Linked DNA regions of Homo sapiens: region 1 is linked to region 2. Evidence: fine-mapped expression QTL. Tissue or cell type: whole blood. Region 2 holds a variant in brackets; the other region holds the start of a gene. All regions are shown on one strand. Distances are between the middles of the regions.

Region 1 (8,105 bases), 28 kb before region 2:
AAGAATTTGCCACCTGTTGGCTTGTCTTTTGCTACTCTGTGCTTGTCTTTTGAGATAACTGGGGCCACAGTTTCCGCCTCTGGCCAGGGCTGGGAGCGGGAAGAGGTCTAGCTTAGCTAAACGGGTTGACCAGCAGTTCCAGGACAGGCGGTCACCTTACTCCCCGAGGCTACAACTTGAGATCGCACCACTGCACTCCAGCGTGGGCCTGGGCGATACAGCAAGACTCCAGCTCAAAAACAAACAACAACAACAACAACAAAAGACACCCTCCATTGGTTTCCCAGTCTGATCGTGACTTCTTCCCTACGGCCTCCAATAAAATGATGGCCATCATATCATCCCCTGACTCACTCACCCCACCCACTCACTGCTCTTCCCCTTTCATTGGCTCCAGCTGTGCCCAAGGACCTGCTTTCTGTTTCTTCCACATCAGCTTTCACCCCAGGGATTTCGAATTCCAAACTATTTTCCTTTGTTCCTCGTTACTCCAACGTTGCCTCAAATGTCAGCTCCTTAGAGAGACCCAGGGTGACCAACTCTTCCCGCTTTGGGGATTTCCCGGTTTTAGCACTGAAATTCCCATATCCTGGGAAACCCCTTAGTCTTGGGCCAAGCAGGATTGTTGGATATCCCAGGGAGATCATCTCTGGCTGCTCTATCTAAGGTAAGCCCCACCCACCCACTTCTCCCACCAAGCCACTACTGTATCACTTTTCCTATGGCCATGGGAATTTTATCTATTTTATTTACACCTGTGTCCCTAGCACCTAGCAAATAGTAGGCGCTATCTATCTATCTATCTATCTATCTATCTATCTACCTATCTATCTATCATCATATACTATATATATACACACATATATGTGTGTGTATATATGTGTGTGTATATATATAAATGTATATATATATATATTAGAGACAGGTTCTTGCTCTGTCTACCAAGCTGGAGTTCAGAGGCACAGTCATAGCTCACCACAGCCTAGAACTCCTGGGCTCAAGCGATCCTCCCACCTCAGCCTCCTGAGCAGCTGGGACTATAGGTGTGCACCACTGCGCCTGGCTAATTTATTTTATTTTTATAGAGATAAGGTCTCACTATGTTGCCCAGGCTGGTCTTGAACCCCTGGCCTCAGACGATCCTCCTGCTGAGTCACTGCACTTGGACCTCAATAAATATTTTTGACTAAATTAATAATTGAATGAAAGGGACTGATTACTGTAGACCACTTGAGCTTAAGAATCTGTCACATGGCCAGGCGCAGTGGCTCCTGCCTGTAATCCCAGGACTTTGGGAGGCTGAGGCGGGTGGATCACTTGAGATCAGGAGTTTGAGACCAGCCTGGCCAACACGGTGAAACCCCGTCTCTACTAAAAATACAAAAATTAGCCAGGCGTGGTGGCGCGTGCCTGTAACGCCAGCTACTCGGGAGACTGAAACAGGAGAATCACTTGAACTCGGGAGGCGGAGGTTGCAGTGAGCCGAGATCATGCCACTGCACTCCAGCCTGGGCGACAGAGACTCTGTCTCAAGAAAAAAAAAAAAATTAGAAGATGATGAAATCAATTTAGCAAATCACCGTCAACATTTTAATTAAAATGAAACAGAACAGGAAATATCAGAGTGCGTTAAAGTATCATTTCACGGTACTTTAGTTACAGTATCATTTGTTTTAGTTATAGATATGTTTGTGTGGACTGAGCCCCTAGGTAAAATGTATTTCCTGCTGTATGCTGTGGTCAAAAATGTTTGAAAACCACCCATCTAGTGATCAAGAGCATGGACTTTGGCACTAGACTACTAGGGTTCCGATCCCTCACAAGCTGTTTGACACTGGGCAAATTCACTCATTCTTTCTGGGCCTCAGCTTCCTGATCTGAAAAATGGGGAAAGGCCGGGCATGGTGGCTCATGCCTGTAATCCTAGCACTTTGAGAGTCCAAGGCGGGCGGATCACTTGAGGTCAGGAGTTCCAGGCCAGCCTGGCCAACATGGTGAAACCCCGTCTCTACTAAAAATACAAAAATTAGCTGAGCGTGGTGGCGGGCGCCTGTAGTCCCAGCTACTTGAGAGGCTGAGGCAGGAGAATCACTTGAACCCGGGAGACAGAGGTTGCAGTGAGCGAGCCAGATCGCACCACTGCACTCCAGTCTGGGTGACAGAGAGAGACTCTGTCTCAAAAAAAAAAAAAGAAAAAACAAAACAAATAAAAACGGGGATAATGCCTAGCATCTTTCTAAAGATGCGATTGTAAGATTTAATGAGTTTGCATATTTAAAAAATGCTTAGATCACTTTCAGGCACATAGCAATTTAATCAGTGCTCACTAATATGATTTCTTGTTGAATGAATGAGTGGGGCTGAAGCCTAATCTCCTGCCTTTTCTCAGTACAAGTTGTTTTCTCCTATTCTTCCAGCCCCTTGTCTCGAATAACTATATGTTTACCTCTTTATTCTGTTTGCTGTCAATGTTCCCTCACTAGAATAAAAGTTCTATGAGGATCTGTCTGTTTCTGTCCTACTCGTAGCTGAATCTACCAGCTTGAGAGGAGGGCTGGTGAGTTTGGCAAACATTTTCTGTAAAGGACCGTATAGTAAATATCTTAGGCTTCGCGTGGGACATGCCGTCTTTGCGCAACTACTCCACTCCGCCCCTGTAGTGTCAAAGCAGCCTTCCAAGCTGTTCAAGGAAATGGGCGTGGCTATGTTCCAATAAAGCTTTATTTACAAACCCAAGCAGGCAGAATTTGACCCGCAGGCCGCAGTTTGCCAATCTTTAAACTAGTTCAAAATACTGGGCCCAATACAATAAAAGAGAGTCTCCTATCAGGTTCACACCCCACAAAAGCTCCTTTTGATAGTTTCTTTTTTTTTCTTTCTTTCTTTTTTTTTTTTTTGAGACGGAGTCTCGCTCTGTCGCCCAGGCTGGAGTGCAGTGGTGCGATCTCGGCTCACTGCAAGCTCCGCCTCCCAGGTTCGCACCATTCTCCTGCCTCAGCCTCCCAAGTAGCTGGGACTACAGGCGCCTGCCACCACGCCCGGCTAATTTTTTGTATTTTTAGTAGAGACGGGGTTTCACCGTGTTAGTCAGGATGGTCTCGATCTCCTGACTCCGTGATCCACCCGCCTTAGCCTCCCAAAGTGCTGGGATTACAGGCGTGAGCCACCGCGCCCGGCCGATAGTTTCTTTTAACCATGTAAAAAATATATATATATTTAAATTTTCAGCTGGGGGTCCGTGAAAAACAGGCGGCGAGCGAGAGTTTGCTGACCCCTGATCAGACTGTTCCCACATGTCCCACACTCCTCCTGTGGGGTAAACGGAGTCCCTTGGGTCCCCTAAAACTGGACTTTCCCAAAACGCGCCACCAACCCACGGCGCCGCGCGCGCGACCGGTTCGCCAACCCTCTGAGCCGCGCGCGCCTCCCGCCAAGACCCGCCCCTCTTCGCGGCCATTGGCCGAGTCTCGCACTCTTTTTCAAGGGGGAACGCCTCCTCCTTCCGACAGACTCTGCAGACAGCCAATGGAACGCCGTAGGGTCTCGCGCCCCGCCCTCTTGGGGGCCCGTTGGAGGCGAGCGTGGGCGGGCCGTTAGGAAGGTGGGGCGCGGAGCCTGGTAACCGTTGCCGGTAACAACGCCCCGCCCCGTCGGGCGGGCGGGCTGCGCGAGGCTGGCTGGCGGCGGGAGCCGGAGGAGGAGCGGCCGCCGCCGCCACCGCCGCCGCCATAGAGACTGTAGCCGTGGAGACTGTTACTTACCAACGGGGACCAACACGCAGCAGCCGCTGCCGCCGCCGCGGGAGCCGCTGCCCGAACTCCCGGCCCGAACTCCAGGTGACCGATGCGACCGCCCCGGGCCCAGCCCGGCCGGGGAGTGTGGGGGGCGGCGGGGACCCCGTTCGGGGGCCGGGGGGCGGGCAGCACGTCCCCGCCGCTCACCCCAAACGTCCGGGTGGTGCGCCCGCGGGACCCGCCTCCGCCACCCCGTCCGCGCGCGCGGCGGAGTTTGGGGGGACCCTGGCGACGTCCCCACTTTCCTTATTGACTGAACGCGGGGGAGGTGCGGTGCCGTCGCCTCACTTTTTACAAAACTTCCTGAGGTTGGGGCGTCCGGGGACCCCTTTCTCACGCTTACCTTCAAACTCGCTGAGTTGGGGGCGCCCCGGGAACGTCTCTCAAACTCCTCAAACTCCCTGAATTGGGGGCGCTTGGGGACCCTCTTCTCACCTTAACCCCCTAGATCTCTGAGTTGGGGGCACCCAAGGACCCCTCTTTTACTCATACCCTCGAATTTTCTGAATTGGGGGCGCCAGGGGACCCTCTTCTCACGTTTACTCCCCAGATCTCTGAGTTGGGGGCACCCAGGGACCCTTCTTTTACTCAAACCCTCGAATTCTCTGAATTGGGGGCGCTTGGGGACCCTCTCCTCACTTTTACTCCCCAGATCTCTGAGATGGGGACACCCGGGGACCCCTCTTTTACTCATACCCTCAAACTCCCTGAATTGGGGCCACCTGGGGCCCTCTTCTTACTTTACTCCCCAAACCTCCGAAATTGGGGTGACCCCAGAGCCCTTCTGTCACTCTTAGTCGCAAACTTCTTGCATCGGGGGGACCTCGAAGACTCCCTTCTCATTTTTACCCCAAATTCCTAGATCTGACTTGTCCCGGGGACCCCCTTTTTAATGGACTCCCAGACATACTGAATTTGGGGGCACCCCTGGAACCTTTTTCTCATTCCTTAACTAAAAGCTGGTGCGTCTGCCCTGGGGAGAACCCCTCTTGCCCTTCTCACCTTTTCATCCCAAACTCCCCGAGCGAGCTTCCCCGGGAACTGTTTCTCACCTTTTTGCCCCAAATCCTCGCGTTCAGGTCGCCTCGGACACCCCCTCCCCTTCTCCCTGTGACCCCATATTCCTGAGTATAGGGGTTCGTGCGTCCGCCAGTCTTTCCACGTGCCCCCAAGATGCCCCTCCGCACGTCCGCAGCTCTCCTCTTAGGACTGATCTGGAAGGGAGAAAAGTTTCACCAACGCGAGTGAAACTTTTTTTTTTTTTCAATTTATTTATTTTGTTAAAGAACCTAAACTGCTCCAGGCATTTTCTCCGAGGTAGTGCGAGTGCGTGTGTGTGTTTGTGGATTTAAACTCCACCCCCTGCCCCCACCGCCCACCAGCGCGCTCGCGGGCGCACACACACACTCACACACACACACTCACTCACACCCCAAATGCTCATTTCTTTCTTTTTCCTCCCTCCGAGAAGCCTCCGCGCTCCCTCGCCACCAGCCTCCGGCTCCGTTCCTTTTGGTTTTCCTCGCTGCACCGCTGGGAAAGTTGGATTTCCCGATCCTAGTGGCTATTTCAAGGGCCCCCGAGGGCCCCAAGCGCCCGGGCCATTCTGGCGGCTGCCGGCGCGGTTCATCTTCCTATTTTAACCTCCTGGTTGTGCGGCAAGAATGGGGAGGGGAGAGGGCAAGATGGAGCTCGGGACCCAGGGCTGGCTGCCTTACCCCCGCCCCCCCAGGCTTCATTCCTACTTTGGGGTGTTGTTAGCATTGTGCCTCCCTGCAATTATTTTCCTGCTTTGTATCATAAATGACCAGCGCAGGCTTCGATGAGTTCTTTTCCCTCTCAGTCAGCTTCATCTCTGTATCAAACCTTGTACAAGCTTCATTCTCTGTTTCAACTAAGAGTTCCCCAACAAAGTAACAGTAATAATAATAATGACACAAAACAACAAAGACTTTTTAAAAAAATTTTTGCCTGTACATATTGTTGACATGTATTTTATCTTTTTACATCGTGCCCTGAAACATTGTTTGCTTATGGAAAGATCCTTACCTCCCGTCCTTCTGGATAAGGAGGAGGGGGGCATCTGTGCTTTCTCCTGCTCTAGTTTAAAGACTTGAACTGACTCTAAAATAACCTTAGAAACGACAACTCACCTACTCTGACCAGAGAAGTAAGAGTTTATGGTAACCTCCCTAGGAAAAGAATTTAAGTTCTTGAATTACTAGGGCTTCTTCATCAACAGGCGTGGTACGGAAGGCAACTTATAATGTATGATGGGAAAGATCACTGTTCTGTGATTCTGTGACAGTTCAACGGACTTGGGTTGGGAATGAGTTCTGAAATAGTTTGCTCCTGCAGGAAAAGCAATACTGAAATATTTTAGTTTTTTAAGTTCTTTCTTATAAACCACTGAATCTGAGAAGAGAGAGACAGTTATTACCTCAATAACAGGACAAGTTCTTTGAAATCACTTGATCTTTGCTTTCTGCGTGAAGGGCACGCATTACCTTAATGTATGTGTGATGTATATTTAAATACAACAATATAATATAATGTGTATGTGATGTATATTTAAATGTAAATACTCATCTTTTAACATTGTTTATCATTGAAGTACTGCTAAGGATGGTTCTGTCCACCAGAAATGCAGGTGCTGGGGAATTGTTTATCTGGGTCTTATTCCTTAGATCTAATTGTTTAGTTTTACATTAGCATTATAATTAATAAAAATATTAAATTGGCTTAACTTTAATATTATAATCGAGTCAAAATTTTAAATGCACCTGTGGATTTTTTTTTTTTTTTTTTTTTTTTTTTTGAGACAGGGTCTCACTCTGTCACCCAGACTGGAGTGCAGTGGCAAGATCTCAGCTCACCTTAACATGCACCTCCCAGGCTCAAGGGATTCACCTGTCTCAGCCTCCTGAATAGCTGGGATTACAGGCATGCACCCCCACACCCGGCTAATTTTTGTATTTTTAGTAGGGATGGGGTTTCACTATGTTGGCCAGGCTAGTCTCAAACTCTTGACCTCAAATGATCCAACCGCCTTGGCCTCCCAAAGTGCTGGGATTACAGGCGTAAGCCACCAAACCCGGCCCCTGCACCTGTGGATTTTTGTTTGTTTGTTTGTTTGTTTGAGACAGAGTCTTGCTCTGTCTCCCAGGCTGGAGTGCAGTGGCACCATCTCGGCTCACTGCAAGCTCCACCCCCGAGGTTTACACCATTCTCCTGCCTCAGCCTCCCGAATAGCTGGGACTACAGGCGCCTGCCACCACGCCCGGCTAATTTTTCGTATTTTTTAGTAGAGACGGGGTTTCACTGTGTTAGCCAGGATGGTCTCGATCTCCTGACCATGTGATCCGCCCACCTTGGCCTCCCAAAGTGCTGGGATTATAGGCGTGAGCCACCGCGCCCGGCCGGCACCTGTGGATTTTTATAGTAGCTAGTGATTGTTTTGCTCATAAAATGCTGGGGCCAGAAGGAACCACATCTTATAATATATATTTGTTTCTAAAGTTGACATCTATTTATTAAATATTTAAATATTTTTAAAATATATATTGAAATATTAAAACATGTATATATAATATATACTTATATATTTAAATATAATAAAATTTAAATATAAATATATGTTAAATATAAAACAAATATATTTAAATATTTACAAACATTTAAACAGTATACCCCCATAGGTACCCACTTACTTGTAAAATAGGAAACTTTTGAAAAACCAAGGGAAGTTCTCATCTTGCTTGTCAGGACACTCACTAAACTGCAGGGGAGGAGAATGCGAGTCTGTGGGCCTGTCTCTGAAACTATGGGTCCAGGGCATTCCCACTAAACACAGCCGTATTTCTGAACTGAACTATATGAATATTCACCCGAAGTGGGGAAGAGAAGGACCATAAGTAACTTCATGTCAATTCAGGCCAGCTTTTGTCACCAAGTGAGTCCATGCCAAATTTACAAAAAAATTGCCAGTTTTCAGAGTTTCCTGGATTTCAGTATTGTTGTAAGGGGTTGTGGGCTTATGTATTTTTTAAAAAGATGTTTTGACTCCGTCTCTAGAATTTAAATGGCAATTAGCTCCTCTGCTGGTCATGTTCTCATGTTCTCTCATGTAGACATATGCCTGGTGTAGTGAAAGGTCTTATTTTGTTGGATGGATGGATGGATGGATGGATGGATGGATGGATGGGCAGGCCGATGGAATATACACTGGGAATTAGAGAAAAAACTGAAAACCACCTACTTGCTTCTTGGAAACTCTAAGATCAGCAAAAGGATTCTCCCAGGAAAAAAAAT
Region 2 (8,105 bases):
GAGGTTGCATTGCTGAGAACGTATCCCTGTCAGGAAGCGACTCATGGCCGTATTTTACTCCTGCAAGGGTGCCAAGATCATTCGATGGGGTAAATACAGTCTTTCCAATAAATGATGCTGGGAAAACTGGGTTTCCACATTCAAAAGAATGAAATTGGATCTCCCCTGCCTTTTTTTTTTTTTTTTTTTTTTTGAGACAGGATCTTGTTCTATCACCCAGGCTGGAGTGCAGTGGTACAATCATGGCTCACTGCAGCCTCGGCCTCCTGGGCTCAAGAGATCCTCCTGCTTCTGCCTCCCAACTAGCTGGGACCACAGGCATATGCCACCATGCCAGGCTAATTTTTAAATTTTTTATAGAGACGAGGTCTCACTATGTTGCCCAGGCTGGTCTTGAACTCCTGGCCTCAGGCAATCCTCCCACCTCACCCTCCCAAAGTGCTGGGATTACAGGCGTGAGCCACTGTGCCCAGCCAGGACTTTTATTTTATAACATACACAAAAATTAACTCAAAATGGATCAAAGACCTAAACATAAGAGCTAAAACTGTAAAATTCTTAGCAGAAAACATAGGGAGACATCTTTATGACACTGGATCTGGCAATGATTTCTTGGATAGGACATCAAAAGCACTCACGACAAAAGGAAAAACAGAAGGATTAGGCCATCAGCGTTCAAAACTTTTGTGCATCAAAGAACAGTAGCAACAGAGTAAAAAGACAACCCAAGGAATGGAAGAAAATGTTTCCAAATCATTTCTAATAAGAGGTTAATATTCAAAATAGATAAAGAATTTCTGTAACTCAGCAAAAAAATTTTTTAATGGGCAGAGGACTTGAGTAGATATTTCTCTTTCTTCAAAGAAGATATTCAGATGGCCAATAAGCAGTTGGAAAGGTGCTTCATACCAGTTATCATTGCAGAAATGCAAATCAAAACCCTAATAAGATACCACTTCACACCCATTACGATGACTGTTACCCAAAAGAAGAAAGACAGAAAAATGTTGATAAGAATATGGAAAAATTGGAACTGAACCCATGTGAACTGTTGGTAGGTGTGCAAAATAGTGTAGCTGCTTTGGAAAACAGTATTTGTACACTCAGACAGGGATTTGTACACTCATGTTCATAGCAGCATGATTTACAATAGCTAAAATGTGGCAGCAACTCAAGTGTCCACCAACAAATGAATGGATAAATAAAATGTGATCCATCTATACAATGGAATACTATTCAGCCTTGAAAAAGGAAGGAAATTCTGACACAGGCTGCAACATGGACATTATGCATTATGCTTAAGGACATCATGCTCAGTGAAAGAAATCAGACACAAAAGGACAAATCCAGCCGGGCGCAGTGGCTCACACCTCTAATCCCAGCACTCTGGGAGGCCAAGGTGGGTGGTGGATCACCTGAGGTCAGGAGTTTGAGACCAGCCTGGCCAACATGGTGAAACCCAGCCTCTACTAAAAATATAAAATTAGCCGGGCGTGGTGGCAGGCACCTGTAATCCCAGCTACTTGGGAGGCTGCAGCAGGAGAATCACTTGAACCCAGGAGGCAGAGGTTGCAGAGAGCCAAGATCGCACCACTGCACTCCTGCCTGGGCAACAAGAGCGAGATTCTGTCTCAAAAAAAAGAAAGAAAGAAAGAAAAAAAAGGACAAATCCAGTGTGATTCCACCCCTAGGAGGTCCCTAGAGTCATCAGATCCATAGCGACAGAAAGTAGAATGGTGGGTGCCAGGGGCTGGGGAGGGGGTAGGGAGTGAGTGTTTCATGGGGACAAAGTTTCAATTTGGGAAGATGAGAATGTTCTGGAGATGGATGGAGGTGATGGTTGCACAACAGTGTGAGTGTGCTTAATGCTACTGAACTGTATATTAAACATGGTTAAAATGGTAAATTGTACATTATGCACATTTTACCACAATTAATGATAAAGAGTAATTGACTCGTCATATTTCCCAGCATTACTTTACTAGGAGGCATATGCTTTTTATGGTTTGCCTCTAGTAAGTCCCTACGCTGTCCTGCTAAAGCAGAGGATCACAGCTTTAATAAAGACCCTAAATATTTATCTTGCCTGTGGTCATGTATAGCTGAACAATGCACAGCGAACTCATTTAGTTTCCATGCGCTTAACTGGGCTAACTCTGCTTTTGAGCCTAATGGAAAGCTTGGGGCAGGTGGAGGACCGGTTCTTTAGCACTCACAGACGATTCCCACACCACACTCCCATATCCGGTCTTCTCTGCCGAGAATTCTCCCTGCCCAAGAGGTCTGGGGTGCCCTGGACACGTGTGCTCATCTCCTGTATTTGGAGATCTGGGGCTGGGAAGAGAATGTAAAGCAACCTAAACAGTAATTTAAGAATGGAGAAAATGGGACTAAATTATTCAGACACGTTTGAGTGCCTACTCGCTAGCAGGCATTTTCCGCTGCCTATAATTATGAGTAAGACATGTTCCCCCAAAGGCCATCCAAGATAGGGGTCACAGCCTGGGCAAGATGGTGAGACCCCATCTGTACAAAAAATTAAAAAATTACCCGGGCATGGTGGCACATACCTGTGGTCTCAGCTTCTGGGGAAGCTGAGCAGGAGGATCACTTGAGCTCTGGAAGTGGAGGCTGCAGTGAGCCATGTTTGCACCACTGCACTCCAGCCTGGATGACAGAGCAAGACCCGGCCTCAGAATAAATAAATAAATGAATAAAAATTAAAAAAAAAAAAAACGGGTCAGCAGACTACATCTAGCACACTACTGTGGGTTTTTATTTTTGTTTTTAGTTTCCACGAGTTGAGAATATTTTTTGCGTTTTTAAATGATTGGAAACAAGACAAAATATTTTGTGACACATGAAAATGATATGAAATTAAATTTCAGTGTCCATAAATAAAGATTTATTGGAACAGCACCAGCACCAGGGTCAGAACTAGCATGAGGCAGTGAGGCCCTCGCCTGGGATGCAAAATTTAAGGCAGTGCCTACAAAAATCCACAGTCATCAAGATACACAATGTTTTAATGCAGTATTTTAAAAAATCAAAATAAATGCCAAAAAATTTCATGATGAAGGCCGGGCACAGTGGCTCATGCCTGTAATTCTAGCACTCTAGGAAGCCAAGGCGGGTGGATCACTTGAGGCCAGGAGTTCAAGACCAGCCTGGACAACAGGGTGAAACCCCGTCTCTACAAACAATACAAAAATTAGCTGGGGGTAGTGGCACGTGCCCGTACTCCCTGAGCCCAGGGAGGTTGAGGCTGCAGCGAGCCGTGTTTGTGCCACTGCAGCCTGGGCAACAGAATGAGACCCTGTCTCAAAAAAATAATGGGAAAAAAATTCCATGATGAGCAAAATGTTGAAATTTTACATAAAGACAGGATCAGCACTGCTGCTTCTTTTTCCTCTTTGCCCCAGGCTCTAGCATGGCTCTGAAAAGCGCTGAGTGCAGCGGCCACACTCACTCCTCCTACTGTCCAGAGGCAGAGTTGAGTAGTCTCAACAGAGACCTGCAAAGCCAAAAATGTGTATTTTCTGGCCCTTATAGAAAGTTTTCCAGTGGCTAACACCTGTAATCCCAACACTTTGGGAGGCCAAAGTGGGCGGATCCCATGAGCCCTGGAGTTCAAGACCAGTCTGGGCAACATGGCAAAACCTCATCTCTACAAAAAATACAAAAACTAGCTGAGAGTGGTGGTGCACGCCTGTGGTCCTAGCTACACGGGAGGCTGTGGTGGGAGGATGGCTTGAGCCCAGGAGTTAGAGGATGAAGTGAGCTGTGATCGCGCCACTGCACTCCAGCCTGTGTGACAGAGAAAGGCTCTGTCTCAAAGAAAAAAAGAAAACTTTCCAACCCCTGATAGACATCAATTCAGGAGAGAAGGACCCTCCTCTTACTATATTAATCCCCAGCAATGACTATAACCAAACTAGATTCAACATCTGGTCCATTTCCCCTGTCTACCATTTTTTTTTTTTTTTTTTTTGAGACAGGGTCTTACTCTGTTGCCCAGGCTGGAATGCAATGGAACGATCTCAGCTCACTGCAACCTCTGCCTCCTTGGTTCAAATGATTCTCCTGCCTCAGCCTCCCTAGTAGCCTCCCTAGTAGCTGGGATTACAGGTGTGCACCACCACACCCAGATAATTTTTGTTTTTGTTTTTGTTTTATTTTGTTTTGTTTTTGAGACGGAGTCTCACTCTGTCGCCTAGGCTAGAGTGCTGGAGTGCAGTGGCATGATCTCAGCTCACTGCAAGCTCCGCCTCCAGGTTCACGCCATTCTCCTGCCTCAGCCTCCAGAGTAGCTGGGACTACAGGTGCCCACCAGTACACCCAGCTAATTTTTTGTATTTTTTAGTAGAGATGGGGTTTCACTGTGTTAACCAGGATGGTCTTGATCTCCTGACCTCATGATCTGCCCGCCTCGGCCTCCCAGAGTGCTGGGATTACAAGCGTGAGCCAAC[G/A]CGCCCGGCCAATTTTTGTATTTTTAGTAGAGACGGTGTTTCACCATGTTGACCAGGCTGGTCTTCAACTCCCGACCTCAGGTGATCCACCCTCCTCGACCTCTGAAAGTGCTGGCATTCCAGGCATGAGCCGCCGCGCCCAGCCCTCCATCTACCTTTATATGTACCTGTTTAAAAAAGTGAGTGTACACTCAAATTATTTAATTTTTGGATAATGGTACATGTAAGCCAATAGCAATTAACACTGAATTAATAAGCATGCTAATGTTTGTGTGCTGTGATGATTTACTGAGAGTATAATTACCTGCATTAAAAATGTATAGAAGCCATCATTTACTTTCATGTTAACTAAATGCTTAATTATTTAATCCTTCATGCAATGGGCTTAGTGTTACTTGGTTTGTTTATAAAATGATATGATTCCTTCCCCGGTTCCACAGACAGGTCTTAGAAGCATAATTAATTATTCTTTTTATTTGTTTAAAATAGAGACAGGGTCTTCCTTTTCGGCCTGGTTGGCCTCAATCAATCCTCTCACCTTGGCCTCCCAAAGTGCTAGGATTACAGGGGTGAGCCACCATACCCGGCCGGGAAGCAGACTTATTATGAACTTTTTTAAAGTAGTGAATGTCTTTGTCTTGGTTTTCCTGCATTCACTCTTTCTGTCTATAATCTAAGAAGAGTGCTCTTTTAAAAGATGTAAGTCAGATTATATTGTGCCTGTGGGTTGAGCCTCCTGGGGCTTCCCTTAGCAATTGGATTTTTTTTTTTTTTTTTTTTGAGATGGAGTCTTGTTCTGTTGCCCAGGCTGGTATGCAATGGCATGATTTTGACTCACTGCAACCTTCACCTCCCAGGTTCAAGTGATTCTCCTGCCTCAGCCTCCCAAGTAACTGGGACTACAGGCGTGCATCACCACACCCAGCTAATTTTTGTATTTTTAGTAGAGATGGGGTTTCACCAGGTTGGCCAGGCTGGTCTCAAACTCCTGACTTCATGATCCACCCACCTCAGCCTCCCAAAATGCTGGGATTACAAGCATAAGCCACTGAGCCCCGACAGCAATTGGAATTTTAAAACTCCAGACATCTGACCTTGTCCAGGGCCTCTGCTGCTGCAAGACCTTTGCACAGCTATTCCTCTTGCCCAGGCTGCTCTCTCCCACATCCTCCCAAGGTTGGCCCCTTCTTTGCAGCTGTCAGGTCCCAGCTCAGTGCCATCCTTAGTGCCACCCATAACTGGCTATCAAGAGGGGAGCCCTCTCCACCACCACCCCTGGCTCTATCCCTCTGCAATCACCTTGCACCACAGCCCGGATCTCTACTGAACAACCTTGTGTATCTGGAACCTTGTGTATTCTTGCCTGACAAGGATACTGGCACCCTGAGAGCAGCACTTTCATCTGACCTGCTCACCTTAGAATCCTCAGGCTGGGTGTCGTGGCTCACGTTTTAATCCCAGCATTTTGGGAGGCCAAAGTGGGAGGATTGCTTGAAGCTGAAAGTTCGAAACCAGCCTGGGCAACAAAGCAAGACCTCACCTTCTCTCTCTCTCTCTCTCTGTCTCTCTCTCACATACACACACACACACACACACACACACACACACACACATTAACCAGGCATGTGCCTGTGGTCCCAGCTACTCACAGGAGGCTGAGGCAGGAGGAATGCTTTAGCCCTGGAGTTAGAGGCTACAGTGAGTTGTGATCTTGCCACTGCACTCTCCAGCCTAGGCAACAGAGCAAGACCCATCCCTAAAAAAACAGAATCCTCAGAGCCTAGAATGGGGCTGGGCACTCAGTAGATGCACCTGGTTTTTCTTTTTTTTTTTTTAATTTATATTTTAAATCTACATACAGTCGTGTTTGCCTTTTTAGGTTTGCTGTTCTATGGTTTTTCACACTTGCATACTTTTTTTTTTTTTTTTTTGAGACAGAGTCTTGCTTTGTTGCCAGGCTGGAGTGCAATGGTGCAATCTCAGCTCACTGCAACCTCCGGCTCCCTGGTTCAAGTGATTTTCCTGCATCGGCCTCCCAAGTAGCTGGGACTACAGGCACGAGCCACCATGCCCAGCTAATTTTTGTATTTTTAGTAGAGACGGAGTTTCACCATGTTGGCCAGGATGGTCTCGATCTCCTGACCTCGTGATCCACCCACCTCAGCCTTCCAAAGTGCTAGGATTACAGGCGTGAGCCACCACACCCAGCCCACTTGCACAGATTCTTATAACCTCCATCTCAAACAGGATGGAGAGCAAGTCCAACCTCTCTCTGTAGTCAGACCCTGGCCCCATTCTTAGCCTCTGGCCACCATCTGCTGTCCCTTTCTATAGCTCTGCCTTTTCCAGAATGTCGTATAAATGGAAACATACATTGTGCAGCTTTTGAGACTGGCTACATTCACTTGGCATAAATGCCTCTGGGATTCATTCTGTCATTGCGTGTGTCAGTCGTTTGTTCCTTTTATTGCTGGAGCACAGTCCTTGTGTGATCCTACCACAGTTTGTTTGTCTGGTATATTTTCTCTTCATGATGGATGTTGAATTAACATGAAAACCTCTGGTTGTAAGAGCGACAGCATACTCTAGACCAAGTACACTAAATCGCAGTGATACTCCCTGCACAAACAGCCATTCTGTTTGGTAATTTACAGGATTACAGTTTGGTAATTTACAGGAACCTGCATGTCTTAGAATGTTTACCAATGAATTACAACTTTTAAAATGATATGCAAGTAATGGCCGGGCGCCGTGGCTCACGCCTATAATTCCAGCACTTTGGGAGGCCGAGGCAGGTGGCTCTCTTGAGGTCAGGAGTTCGAGACCAGCCTGGCCAACATGGTGAAACCCCGTCTCTACTAAAAATACAAAAATTAGCTGGGCATGGTGGCATGTGCCTGTAATCCCAGCTACTTGGGAGGCTGAGGCACTAGAATAGTTTGAACCCGGGAGGTGGAGGTTGCAGTGAGCTGAGATTGTGCACTGCACCCCAGCCTGGGAGACAGAGCAAGATTCCATCTCAAAAAATAAAATGATATGCAAGTAATACAAGTAACATTCTCCTGGGAAGGACCACCATCTACAGCAGGAGATTCAGAAATGAAAATTTCTCTTTTCGTCTTTCTGTCTATCCCACCTCATATGAGGTAAGCACTGTTAGTCATATAACTTGTGTCCTTCTAGATCTTTTTAAGGCCCCTTTACCTATTTTATAGTATGTATAGCTGGGGTTTTTTCAACATAAATTTATTCTGCAAATATTTGAGAGCCTACTGTGTGCCAGGCACTGCAGATGTTGGCTTTCTTTCTTGGAGACGGTACCTCTTCTTTTTAATGGCAGCATAGTTTTAGAGCTAGGATGCACCATAAGGTACTTAATGATTTTCCTGTTGATGAACATTTGTTTCTAAATTTTTATGACTTAAACTAATGCCACTGGGGACAGGTCGTCAATATACCTTTTTTTTTTTTTTTTTTACAGCTGTGCTGAGATCTGTTTTACATACCGTAAAGCTCACCCATTTGAAGTGTATGGTTCAGTGGGTCTTAGTATACTATCTTCACAGAACATTTTCATCACTCCGAAAAGAAGAAGAAACCCTGAACCTGCCATGAACAGCCACTTGCCCTTCCTCC

Evidence for each region. PIP is the estimated chance that this variant, and not a neighbour inherited with it, causes the effect.
Region 1: RFX2 starts here. The variant in region 2 is fine-mapped to the expression of RFX2 in whole blood (INTERVAL, PIP 0.94).

Annotation. Positions count from the first base shown.
Region 1 is chr19:6,106,124-6,114,228 of GRCh38, reverse strand. RFX2 (regulatory factor X2) reads left to right here and starts at 3,729. Exons shown (of 18, transcript NM_000635.4): 1 at 3,729-3,836. RefSeq lists a silencer at 3,408-3,867 and an enhancer at 4,715-5,215.
Region 2 is chr19:6,078,180-6,086,284 of GRCh38, reverse strand. All of the region lies in intron 1 of RFX2 (regulatory factor X2), which reads left to right. Among named protein-coding and RNA genes, the nearest start is that of RFX2-AS1, 20 kb to the right of the region's middle. The variant G/A (reference allele first, on the strand shown) is at 4,470.